Homo sapiens: one gene and its partner. Changing the gene in region 1 together with any one later gene gives a genetic interaction. Each region holds a gene or a part of one and is shown on either strand. Other genes may lie near its edges.

Region 1 (4,085 bases):
GACCTTACACTGCTATCAGGAAAGCACGTACAAAAAATAGTTAAGACGGTTTAAAAAAATCTTCAAGATAGAATTGCTTATCTTGGTATTAAATGGCAGAAGTATCATAATCTCTTTCAAGAAGGAAAAAAAATTAAATATTCCCAGACTGCCCTGCATATTAATAGAAAAAAAATTCTGTTCCACTGTTCTGATAACGAAGTCAAAAGACAGTTACATTCCTCATAAGCCCACAGATAACTAGCACCTGGGCGTGGAGTAACTACTTAATTTTTTTTTTTAACTTCTGATTTTTTGATAGATGGGGATAGAATCAGAAAGAGGAAGAATGTCGGAAGTTTGCCTAGAAAAAAAAAATCTTAAGTTGGAATGATTAGAACTACTGAAATTTAACAGTCCCAAATGCTGTCTTACAGAAAACTAATTACTCTTTTCAAGTTTCAAGGTAATCTGTACAGAAACAGAACTATTAAAGTTGGAGCACTAAGAAAAATTAAAAATACATAAATAAATAAATAAAAATAAAGTTGGAGCACTAAACTGAATAGTCAGTAACACTGGGATCAATTCTCAGGACTGCTATAAGAAAAAAAGGCATATTTCTTTCAAAGATTTATTCGAGTACTTAATAAAATCATTAGTACATGATAAATTCCTGCCTTAACTCCTTTCTTTAAGAAAACTGAGGGAAACTGACAAAGCAAGCTGGTAACATGATTTTTCCTATCATTCCACTGGCTATGAGGGCATGTGTGTTTTGTTCCCCATTGTTGTCCAGTTCGTAGACACAAAGAGGGTGGGTGCTAAGCAAATACTGACTGAACACATGGATTGGTGTTTTCATTTCAACTGATCATGACTAAGTACTGTAGAAGGAAAAGTAAAAATCTCAGGAACATATAAAGTAACCAATTCAATCAGATCTTCCAATTCTGAAAGATTAGGGAAGGTGTGAAGGGGAGCTAAGATGAATCTTAATACATGAATAAGACAGGTGGAGAAGAGCACAAAAGGGTAGAAGAAAAGCACTTAAAAAGGAACCAGCATAAGGCCAGGCACGGTGGCTCACCCCTGTAATCCCAGCACTTTGGGAGGCTGAGGCGGGCAGATCACCTGAGCTCAGGAGTTTGAGACCAGCCTGCCCAAAATGGTGAAACCCCGTCTCTACTAAAAATACAAAAAATTAGCCCGGTGTGGTGGCGGGAATCCCAACTACTCGGGAGGCTGAGGCAGGAGACTCGCTTGAACCCGGGAAGTGGAGGTTGCAGTGAGCTGAGATCACGTCACTGTGAAACTCTATCTCAAAAAAAAAAAAAAAAAAATTCATAGCAGGGCAGGGCGCGGTGGCTCACACCTGTAATCCCAGCACTCTGGGAGGCCGATGTGGGCGGGTCACCTGAGGTCAGGAGCTCCAGACCAGCCTGGCCAACATAACCAAAACAACCTGGCTAAATTCAATCTCGGCTAAAAAAAAAACTACACAAATCAGCCAGGCATGGTGGCGCGCGCCTGTAATCCCAGCTACTCGGGAGGCTGAGACAGGAGAATCGCTTGAACCCAGGAGGCAGAGGCTGCAGGGAGCCGAGACTGCACCACAGCACTCCAGCCTGGGCGACAGAGAAAGACTGTCTTAAAAAAAAATTATTAAAGACTTCTCAGAAAATAGTAATCTTTCTTCTGGTTAAGAATAAAACTTAAAAAGTTATCAGTGCCTACAGATTAATCACTCTTCTGTGGTAGAAAAATTTCGACGATTCTGCACGTCAAAGCAAACAAGGTAAACAAAACCACTAATTACTAAAAACCTTTTGGATTTAGAAACCTAACTCGCCGGGCGCGGTGGCTCACGCCAGTAATCCCAGCACTTTGGGAGGCCGAGGCGGGCGGAATACGAGGTCAGGGAATCGAGACCATCCTGGCTAACACGGTGAAACCCCGTCTCTACTAAAGAAACCCCGTCTCTACTAAAAATACAAAAAATCAGCCGGGCGTGGTGACGGGCGCTTGTAGTCCCAGCTCGTCGGGAGGCCGAGGCAGGGGAATGGCGTGAACCCGGGGGGCGGAGCTTGCAGTGAGTCGAGATTGCGCCACTGCACTCCAGCCTGGGAAACAGAGCAAGACTCCGCCTCAAAAAAAAATAAAAAAGAAACCTAACTCAAGCCAGGGTGAGACTACGAATCACGGCTTTGGCTTTAAGTGCCTGTTGTACTAAGACCGATGTAATCACCTCGGTCAAGTCCCTTTGCCTTTGGCCTCAGTTTCCTCATTTGCTAACGCTGGGCAGGGAGAAGAGAGTCAAACTTTGCTGTTCTCACTGGGCATCTGAGATATGGAGGGAAGGGCGGAACAGAGGCGAGACACCCGACCCGACCGCTGATGTCGCCCCAAAAAGAAGTCAGCTCGCAGGGCTCTGGAGGCTTCAGCAAGCCAGGCCACCCAGACTCCTCGCTCCAGCAACCCCGGGGCCTGCCCAAGCCGGTGGGGCAGGAAGGAGGGCCGAAGGGCCTAACCCCTTCCTTGCTACTCGTTGACTTCCTACCTTTACTGCATACAATTTGCCGCCTTTCTGCCCCAGATACACTTTCCCGAAGGCGCCCCGGCTAATGGGCTTCACTATGCTGAATTCCTCAATGGAGGGCGGTTTTGGCACTGCGATCCTATTCACGCCCTCCTCAGTCGCCGCGCCTCCTCCAGGCTCCTTCTTGCTTCCCGCGGTGGGATCCATCGCTGGACAGCATACAGCGGCCCCGCAGACACTGCCCCTCCGCGAGCAGCCACTCCCGCCAACTGGGTTCAAAGTGAGGCTCCGCCCACGCCGCGCGCGGCCGTGACGTCACCCCGCCGCCGCGCCCCGCCCTCGTCACCTCCCCTACGCAGACGCGGACGGAGGGGGCGTCGGGAAAGCCCCGACTTCGCAGCCTTACACTCTTCGTGGGCGGCGACCGCGGCCCCACTGACATCATTCCTCATGAGGGAGGAGGCACAAACAGTTCTGGGCCGACCAGAAAAAGGACGACTGGGACTTGACTCTGAATCGCAGGATTTGAAGAGATTTCTCCTGGCTTCCCAACGAGGCTGGTGGGAAGCGGTCCTCCTCCCATACACGACCTCCCACCCTCGCGAGGCGTAGAAACCAGTTCTGACTGTACAGTAAAGCGAGGGCCAGGGCTGAGGTCTGGAAGCTAATGAAAGCACAGAAAGTGTCGAAACTGGATGAGCAGGAAGCGAGTGGCCTCCCCTGTCATCTGACGTTTTCCCAGGATGTAATTTGCCTGACTGAAACAGATCAGGACCAACAGGGAGAGTTTTCGATTTAGTGTGAGGAAAAGAGCACTAAATTGTAGCAAAAGACCTTATTGCTCAAGGCCCAGTCAGAAGATTTCATAAGGAAGCTGTAGAAAGTCTTAAGAGGAAATCAGCCGGGCGTGGTGGCGGGCACCTGTAATCCCAGCTACTCGGGAGGCTGAGGCAGGAGAATCGCTTGAACCCGGGGAGCAGAGGTTGCAGTGAGCCGAGATCGCGCCACTGTACGCCAGCCTGGGCGAAAGAACGAAACTCCGTCTCCAAAAAAAAAAAAAACGAAGAAAAAGTCCAAAGAGGGTAAAGGCTGTTCTCCCCTTAAAAAACAGCTAAAGACCTTTGGGGGCGCTGCTCCTTGTAAATGTCAACTACTTCCGCGGGAAAGAACGCGCAGGCACTTGGCCTTGTGGGCGCTCACTTGCCCCGGAAGTACTGTTGAGTTAGCGCCTCGCCTTCCGGGGCGGATTGTCTGTCGTTGCAGTAGCTGTAGGAAGGGGAGGCCATTTTCCGTTTCTGGGAGGAGTGAGGGGCAACGGGTCGGAGAAAAAGGAAAAAAGAAGGGCTCAGCGCCTCCCCGCCGGGCCGTGGACAGAGGGGCACAGTTTCGGCAGGCGGGTGAGGTCGCTGAGGGCCCGCCGGAGATGTTTTCCTTGTCGAGCACGGTGCAACCCCAGGTAAGCCAGGCATTCAGCCCATTTTTTTTCCTCCCGCCCTGCCCGTGGCTGTTTGCAAATTGCGCTCGTGGAAGCGATTTCTCAGAAGGGACTCTAGAAATGAAGTGATGT
Region 2 (3,500 bases), on another chromosome or scaffold:
CCGGAAAAATAATTTTTAATAATTATAATAACTAAATCTGTCAATATTATGACATGAGTACACTAATACATTGTTTGTGACATTGTACTCCTTGAAGAAAATATAGGAATCCACAGCAAAAGCCACAAAATGTTCATGTAACTCAGACTCAACAACAACTAATTATTTTTTCTTAAACAAGTCTACCCAATGCTGAGTTAATTATACTAGGAAAGCCTGGAAACAACTAAAGCTTTCAATGATAGAAAAAATGATTTAACAAAATATGTTACAAGAACAAGAATGGGTACTATACATCTATTTAAAATAGTAGTTATGAAGACAAAGTAAAAGGATAGTTCTAATTTCACTTGAAAAAATCCAAAAGATTAAGCAATTTTAGACCCAAATTCTCAGATGGCAACAAAGAATTTGCAGCTTCTTGCTCTAGCTAAGGAACACACTTTTCCTTTCCACATAATTCCCACCCACCCCTCTTTATTCATATATGTACTTATAACCTGCCTTTATAGAATTTGCAGTCATATGGATGACAGCTAAATATTATAACCATTTTAAATGTTGAAACTATTTTGCAATTTATAACATCCATGTCCCTCACGCCAGAATTTGCTCAAATTAACAGGGAGAAAAGTTGCATTAAGAATAGGAAAACATGTATGTCCCTAATACTGTTCCCAAGAACTTCTCAGACAAAATTCCAACATTAGGAACTAAAGAGATGTGGCAGTGCTGCTTTTAAAAGAAAAAGGCAGGAAACAATTCAAATATCCATTAATAGAGAATGGTTAAGTAAATTGTGGTACAACCAAACAATGAAATACTATGTAGCTATAAAAAATAAGAATAAAGAAGCTGTTTATGTACTGACAAAATGATTGCCAAGATACAAATTAAAAAGCAAGATGTGGTACAATGCATATAAAGTATATTGCCATTTGTGTAAAAACAGAGGGACAAAGAGTATGTGTGTATTCGCTTGTGTATACATGAAATATTACCAGGATACACAAGACACAGATATTACTAACTACCTCTAGAATGGGGAACTTTTGTATCTTTTTGCGTTTTTTGAATTTTGGGACTTGTAAATATACTGCAATCAAAGTATTAAATAAGGAATAAAATAGTTCAATTTAAAAGAATTGAGATGGTACTCTACTCATATTTTTCTTTTTAAAAAATTATTTAAGATACCAAAGATCAGCATTCACTAAATGGAATTAAACACACTCAGAAATATTGATAATACAGTAGATAAGGCTGGGTACAGTGGCTTACGCCTGTAATCCCTGCACTTTGGGAGGCCGAGGTGGGTGGATCACCCGAGGTCAGGAGTTCAAGACCAGCCTGGCCAACATGATGAAACCCTGTCTCTACTAAAAATACAAAAAATTAGCTGGGCGTGGTGGCCCGCACCTGTAATCCCAGCTACTCAGGAGGCTGAGGCAGGAGAATCGTTTGAACTCAGGAGGCAGAGGTGCAGTGAGCTGAGATCGCGCCACTGAACACCAGCCTGGGCAACAAGGGCAAAACTGTCTACAAAAAAAAAAATAAAAATAAAATAAAGTAGATGAGCTGTGTAACCATCCATATTTAATTAATATCAACCAAGACTTTCTTCACATGAAAAAAAAAAAAGGCAGCTACAATTCCAAATTTAGTATTACCAGGAATTCAGGTAATAGTATTTTTAAAATAATATAATGACTAATGCAGCTATTAAATCTCTTGGGGAGGACTGCCTATATTTTTCAACCAGATATTTACCGAGTTGAAACCTAAAAATAAAATATGCTATCTTAATGATACAGTCATACAATGAATATTACACAACAATAAAAAAAGAACTATTCCTACAACATGTATGAATCTCACAAACATAATGTTAAGCAAAAGAAGCTAGACACAAAACAGTCAGACTACACAATTCCATTATGTAAAGTTCAAGAACAACAACTAATCTTTGGTGAAGTCAGAGCAGTGGTTACCTTTGGAGGAGAGAGGTGAGTACTAATGATATGGACATGAGAGAGCCTTCTGGAGTGCTAAAACTGTTCTATATCTTGATTTAGGTGGTGTTTACGTAAGTGTATATACATATGAAAATGCACCAAAACACACAAGACTTACACAGTTTACTGCATGTACACCTCATTTTTTAAGGTTGTAATGCTCTTTTCTCAATATTCATTGTTGAAATTTTCCTTGAAATTTACGCATTAAAATAAAAAATCTGCTATCCAACTTACCTCCCCCATTAATTCCTTAACAACAGGCACCACGCCATTGTCTTTGGTAAAGCCCTGGTATGACATATTCCTGGCTGCTTTTTGGGTACAGATGAATATATCACCATTCACCGTCTCAAATCCAATGTACTTCATATCAGGACGAACCCAACAATTTGTCTGCCCAAACATGGTCTCAGGTCTGAGAGTAGCAGCCACCAAGAAAATATTTTTACCTTTCAGGCCACTGAGAAAAAAAAACAAATATTGATGTAAAAACATGTCAACTCTGTAACAACTATCTGATGGTTCAGAAATGATAAAGCAATTACTCTGGCAAACCTACCTTAATTTAGATGGGTATGGCTCAAGCACCTTCAATTTGAGTAAAGTATATTCCTGAGGTCCAACACCCTAAGCAAATAAACGATACAAAAATTTGAAGGAAAAAAAAGACTTGCCTTAAACCTACTAATCTATGTGAGAGATCTGATTCAAGTCCCTAAAATGGGTTCTTGCATTATTAATTTTTTTTTGCAGAGAAGAGATTGCCAGTGGTGTGCTAACTATACCCACACAGAAGTCTAGTACGTTAGGAGAGATTTGGAGTAATCGCCCAAAATAGTGTTTGCCAAAATGAAGGTGAGAAGACACAATCAACCCTAATTCCATCCCAGGGCATGTCCCACATAGTAGTCATCAAAGGAAGACACTAGACCAGAGGTCAGAGATAATGTGCTTTCTAAACTTAGTTTGCTCCCTTACTAATGGTTAGACCCAAGGTAGTCATAATCTCTCTAAGCCTTTCTTTCCTTATTGGTAAAATAAGGATGTTGCGTCTCAGATAGGACTGTCCTGAGGAACACACAAGATAACAGATGAAAAATGCTTTGAAAAATCTACAAAGGATTACTGAAATCTAGGATATTGCTGCCATTGGCTATATTAAAACTTTACTGGGTCTTAAGTCTCTCAAATCTTTTAAAATTTTGATCAACTCTCACTTAGATAAGTTACATCAAAATTGAAGGCTGATTTTGAAAATATGTTCAAAGATGGTAATAAAAAATGATGCAATCATAGGGAATCATAAGTTCAGATGCTGGCATTGTCATTGATTTTTACTTTGCCATGGATTTAGCCAAATCACTTACTCTTGATTTATTCAAGTATTTCAGAGAATAATGTTAATAATGTGTTCTACAGGAATTAGAATGAACTTCTAGGCATGGCTAGAATTACTTTGGAAATAAGCAAGAAGGCACATGA

Evidence for each region.
Region 2: changes in MASTL (region 1) and LARS1 together harm fitness more than expected from each alone (negative genetic interaction), as found in Homo sapiens cells (one large-scale study listed by BioGRID).

What each region holds. Positions count from the first base shown.
Region 1 is NC_000010.11:27,154,067-27,158,151, reverse strand, and holds the start of MASTL (serine/threonine-protein kinase greatwall), read right to left. Parts: upstream 2,801-4,085; 5' UTR 2,726-2,800; coding exon 2,540-2,725; intron 1-2,539. Other genes in the region: ATP-dependent zinc metalloprotease YME1L1, read left to right, coding at 3,942-3,974. UniProt on the Homo sapiens protein: Serine/threonine kinase that plays a key role in M phase by acting as a regulator of mitosis entry and maintenance.
Region 2 is NC_000005.10:146,155,151-146,158,650, forward strand, and holds part of LARS1 (leucine--tRNA ligase, cytoplasmic), read right to left. Parts: intron 2,646-3,500; coding exon 2,578-2,645; intron 2,479-2,577; coding exon 2,253-2,478; intron 1-2,252. UniProt on the Homo sapiens protein: Aminoacyl-tRNA synthetase that catalyzes the specific attachment of leucine to its cognate tRNA (tRNA(Leu)).